2 separate regions of the Homo sapiens genome follow, and region 1 is linked to region 2. Evidence: fine-mapped expression QTL. Tissue or cell type: lymphoblastoid cells. Region 2 holds a variant in brackets; the other region holds the start of a gene. All regions are shown on one strand. Distances are from middle to middle.

Region 1 (3,032 bases), 420 kb after region 2:
CATTGCAGAATTTCAGTGCTACCATACAGTCTCTACAAAAGGAGTTTTCCATACTTTGACTACGTAATTGGAACCATTTTTCATCTCAAAGGAATTTTTATTACCATTTAATAACATAGCTATTCTAGGTATTATTTTCACAGTATTTTTTCTTCCAAAATTATCTTTAATTCCTAAGAGATTTTTTGCACAAATTATAGAAAATAAGCATCCTTAAATTTCAGGACTCCAGACACTTTTTACTCAGTACGTTTTGCCTTGGAACACTGGGATTTGTGAAATTATCCTTCCTCTGCTTTATTTGAAGCTGAGGCTGAGTAAAGAACAGAAAGAAAACCCATAGAGATTTGCCTTACATTTATCTCTTTTTTAAAAGTTACCTTTTTCTCCTGATGTTATCTGTCTTAGACACGGGGCTCAGATCCCTATATTGGTGGTCAATATGTCCCATTCTGCATCCCTATGGCCAGCCTGACCCCTCATTCAACAAGTTCACACTACTCAACTCCACTTTTCAACCAGGCAAAACAAATGTTCTTCCCTCATCCCCAAGTTCTCAGAGCAAAGGAAATGCTGAAAGATTGCAAACTCTTTTTTGTAGTTATTTTGGAAGGGAGCACTTTCCTACCATCTCTTAACTCCTCTGATTTTTACTTAAGAAAAATCATAATGCTCTTTTGTCCTGTCAGCTCCTAAGCATCTACTGCCTCCTTGTAAGAGGTCTTTTCTGAATAACAATGCAGGGAACATTATTTGCCATTTGCACCAAGATCCTGCTCTTTGTGGTTACACATTCTGAAGTGCCAATCATCTCTAAGGCAATTAGAGCCGTTAAGACTTCCAGCTGCAGAGGAAAAGAAATCAAAGCATTCTCCAGAGCACCTTCGAACGGCGTCTCCCAAAGCCCGCGCAGAGCAGGGGCAGCTTACCTGTGCGGCATGCCTGTGGTGCAGACGGTGGTGTGCTCGCTGGACAGGTCGCAGAGCTTTAGGTACCAGTTCATCTCCACTTCGCGCAGCAGAGCCAGTTGACGCGCCCTGAGCTGGCTTTCCCCTGAGGGACTAAGGCTGCTGTCTTTAGCGTTTTCTGAGGCTTTCTTGGGAGATTTGTCTTTCCCTGCTACAGAAAACCCAGACTGTCTCCTTAACTTGGTGTTCTCCTCTGAGATCTGACTCCCCGCTGCCCCTGTCCGGGCTGCCAGCATCGTGGAGATCTTTCAGAGAAGACTGGAAGTCACTGTCATCAAAGTAATCTGAATTGATTTTTCTGCTTCTGCCTCCCTCCCTCGTCCCTGCCCACTCCACCTCTCTTAACCTTATCCTGCCACAAAGCTGTAATTGAGCCCAGTCTGTGGCTTGGGATGAAAATGTATCTCTAACCTTTCCTAGTGAAGAGGTAAGCTGGCCAATACCTGTGGTATCTTCGAACACGGAAATTTTAAAAACAACTCCCAACAACTTTGTAATACTGAAGTTTGGCAGTGGCTGTTTCTTCCGCAAAGTTAGGACTTTTGCTTTATTTAATAGTGACAACTCTGAACTTTTGGTCATATAGGTTTGGTAAATTACATTCGATAATCATGTTAGAGTTATAAAAGATTTCTGGAGGCTCATTAGCCATTCCTGATTAGAGTCCCTTTGGAGTTTTAAAAGTTTTAATGTGAATTTCCTCAAATAAGTTCAACAGTATCAATGCAAGGGAAAGATTATTTCTCTTGTGCAAACCTGAACATTTTAAATTTATTTTATATTTCTTTGAATGTCAGTGAACCACATAACGTATGTCAGGCACTCTTTCATTCCTAATGTGAGAATGGTAATCCCTCATAACCGATTCAGTAACTGCCCCTCCCAGCACTTCTGACAAATAGAAGCCATGAGAATCATCTGATAATTGGGAAGGTGAAGGCCAAAACTGGTGTGAAAAAACAGAAGAGTGGGAGGGAATGGTGGGAGCCTGTATGTGCATGGATGTGTATGTGTGTGCCCAGTGTACATGAAAACTAGTTTGGGAGAAACAAAGAAAGCCAAGCTGATGGCCCTATGGTTAAGATGCATGGGGTTGACCCACACACACCCATGGATCTCACTCTGTTTTAGTTTAGGAGATAATGATGTCAGTGTCCACCTAGGGGTCTATCACAGAGTTGTTTAGTGACCCGTTAAGCACCAGGCACCCTCCCCCTCAATCAACTTAAGTCTCTTCTGGATCAACTATCTCAGTGCCTGCTGCATGTAAAGAACTTGGGAAGGTGCATGTATTTTTCTTTCCATGACAAAACCGTAAGTTAAAAATTGTAGAGTTATAGCAAGTCCTTAGAGTCCCTGAGAAGAGCAGGAGAGGAAGGAGGAAAGAAGCATGCCTTCTTAAAGAGATAGGAAAGTGCAGTTAGCTCTTTTGGAAAGTCTGTCAATAGGCTGTCATAAGGCCTCCTCTGCCACCACGGTATGGAGGAAGAATTTCCTTCACTGCTATTCTCATCCCTTTACTATCTGAACTAATGTGGTCACCTCGGTCACATGGCTTGGTAACAAGTCATCTACTGCTGTCTTGGATTATCTTGCTTCCTTTAATGTACGCCTTGCCCCCTTTCACTTGCCCTTAGTCCACTGTCACTCTCAAAGACCTGCCAAAGGTCTTTGAGGATCCCTATGGCTGTTAATTAACCAATATCAATATTAACCAATTAACAGCCATGTGGGCTCTTGCACATTTGGGTGAAACCTGTTTGATATTACTGTCCAGGATAGTCTAGGGTTAGAACTGTAACCACCAAGTAATGTGCAGCCTGAAGCATGTATCAAAGGAGGCAACTGATACCAACTAGCAGGGTCAGTCCCATCTGATGCTGTGGGGTCTTAGGAACTTTTAGCACCAGCAGGCGACAGCCTCTTCAACTACTCTCTTTGCTCCCATCCCTTGAGTCATTGAGGAGTTCTGGCAACATTATATGCATAGCAACTAGACTCCCCGAAGTGTAGACTGGAGATAATCACCCCAGTTTAATATTCTTGGAGATGTTTCAATGGGGG
Region 2 (2,500 bases):
ATGTGCTGTAATCACAAGAGGAGAAAATAACTTGTTTCCTTGATCTGTCAGAGGTCACAGTAACCTGGGCCGAGCTGTTATTATTTATTATATAATAGTAGTAGGAAGTTAATAACTGGTTCTCTGTGTTCCAAGCACAATATTACAACTTCTTTTGAACCGTAAATATCAGAATGAATCCTCTTCCCAGGGGATTGAACAGAAGCTTAATGTTTACAAGTGTTTGAATTTGTGATCTGAAATAACACAAAATTAAAAACATGATTTCTCTAATTTTCCAACTAGAGGAAGAGAAACTTGTGGAAAAGTTCTTTTTTTTTCTTTTTTTTTTCTTAAAGAAGGGCAGCCAAGGTAGTAACCTAAAAATAGTGCCCAGGCATATGAGAGTTGTCCTACGAGGTTAAAGAACACACTGTTCCACTGTATGGCTTTGGCCCTGAGTGGCCAGGGAGGTCAACTTGACCCTGCCATGTTGGTTTGACTTACTAAGACACAGGAATCACTGTTTTCCTTGACCAGGGTCTCACACCCTGGAGGAATGTTAAGTAAGAGAAAGAACCTCTTTCCTGAATATTGACATGTAAAAGACCAAAGTAATTTTTCTGAACTTCTGCAATTCTGAGAACTCTCCAAGGAATTTACAGTGATTTTAGTGCTTGTCAGCATTTTTCCATGAGGACTTTCATACATTTGACTCTTTAGTTCACAGGTTCCCATTGATTGTGAGCAAGATATTTATCTCTTTAGCCCTTGGGGATCCAGCTGAGAGCAATCTCTTGCATTTTTTTACCCGTGTATGTACAGATATCATTTCTTGTGTATGCCATGACTTGAAAAAGTTTGGGAAGCTCTTTAGCAATATCAGCTAAAAGGATATGAAATCACAGGTGATAGCAGTTGTCATTCAGTAATTTCCTACAAGCAGCACCCCAAAGGAAATATAGTCCTAATCTTTACTATCCACTTCTAAATTTAATGTGAATTTCATACATGTTATTAGTTGTTTTCTTTATAATTTTATAAAAATTATTCATCGGGAGTTTAACTTCCACTTCCATGCTATCGGATGTGTTGGGCTCCATGCAAGAACTTGGAAGAAAAACAGGCAGGAATGCATTTGCATAATGACCCAGATCATCATTTTCTGCAACTGAGAATTATATTTCATCATTGCTTCTAGAAGTCTGCAATTCTTTACTTTTCTTTGGTGCATTATTATCTAGGTGCCATCACTGGATAATGTGGAGTGACTAGAGAAGTCA[C/T]ATATCACTGTAAGGTACAGTTAGGGTAACACTTTAGAGGTTTATTATTTTTAAAAAACTTTTCTTGAACTCCTGGCCAACATGGTGAAACCCCGTCTCTACTAAAAATACCAAAATTAGCCAGGCGTGATGGTGGGCGCCTGTAATCTCAGCTACTTGGGAGGCTGAAGCAGGAGAACTGCCTGAACCCAGGAGGCAGAGGTTGCGGTGAGTCGAGATCGTGCTACTACTGCCTGGGTGGCAAGGGTGAGACTCCATCTCAAAAAAGAAACAAAAAAACCCAAAAAGTTTTCTTTACTGTTGGTTAAAAAAAAAAGCCAGACCATAGTTTGACTGGTGGCATGGAATTTGTGTATCAAATAAATGCATTTGCTTATTTGACAAACCATCAGTGTCCACTATTTGTTACCAGAGTTGGGCCACTATCTTTTAAAATTGCTGGTGAAAACTTGCCACTAGATGGCAGTGCCTGTATAGATGGGGAAAAAATTGCCACCATTCTTGGTATAATACAGTGTAGCTTAGATGAGGTGGTGAAATAGGGGTATCAGCCGAATATTCCTAATATAGTTTCTCTTGAATTAATAAACTGAAGATTTGTAGGAAAATGAGTGAGCAAAATTTGTTTACTGTTGTGAATTTTTCCTACAGCACTGTTTTTAATCTTGATGTTTTCCAACTTTCTGTACTAATAGATACATTTCTGTGCATAAGATTATAAAGCATATACTCACAGTTCAGTAGTTTTCGTTAAGGATTTACTGTGTGAGTACTTTACTGTGAGGAATTGCAGAACCTTTTCCCCTCTACTCTTGTCTAAAAGTTCTGTGTGGCACACAGAGATGCGACCTACTCAATCTGACTTAGTAAAACCATGCTGTAGAATTTTTGTCTTAAAAAGACCACATACCCAGCACCCATGAAATAAAAGATTCATCTGTAATTGGGATTCAAAGTGATTAAATTCCTTTGTTCATACTCATAAATAGCACTAAAGTGTTATAACATTTTCATTTACCTATTTTTAGTTCCTTCATTTTAACTTAATAAAAATCTTGGATTGATATTCTTTTTTTTTTTTTTTTTTTTTTGAGACAGCGTCTCGCTCTGTCACCCAGGCTGGAGTACAGTGGCTCTATCTTGGCTCACTGCGAGCTCCGCCTCCCAGGTTCACGCCATTCTCCTGCCTCAGCCTGCCGAGTAGCTGGGACTACAGGCGCCCGCCACCACACCCGGCT

Which allele goes with the higher level. Positions count from the first base shown, and alleles are read on the strand shown. Sizes are in standard deviations (SD) of each study's normalised expression.
With allele T in place of C in region 2, the expression in lymphoblastoid cells of the gene that starts at base 1,238 in region 1 is higher (small effect, 0.30 SD a copy in GEUVADIS).

Evidence for each region. PIP is the estimated chance that this variant, and not a neighbour inherited with it, causes the effect.
Region 1: it holds the start of KCNAB1, and the variant in region 2 is the best candidate, but not a certain one, in a credible set for the expression of KCNAB1 in lymphoblastoid cells (GEUVADIS, PIP 0.54).

Annotation. Positions count from the first base shown.
Region 1 is chr3:156,118,784-156,121,815 of GRCh38, reverse strand. It overlaps KCNAB1 (potassium voltage-gated channel subfamily A regulatory beta subunit 1), which reads right to left and starts at 1,238. Exons shown (of 14, transcript NM_172160.3): 1 at 930-1,238. The coding sequence starts at 1,204.
Region 2 is chr3:156,540,459-156,542,958 of GRCh38, reverse strand. SSR3 (signal sequence receptor subunit 3) reads left to right here. Exons shown (of 5, transcript NM_007107.5): 5 at 1-2,500. Among named protein-coding and RNA genes, the nearest start is that of SSR3, 13 kb to the left of the region's middle. The variant C/T (reference allele first, on the strand shown) is at 1,263.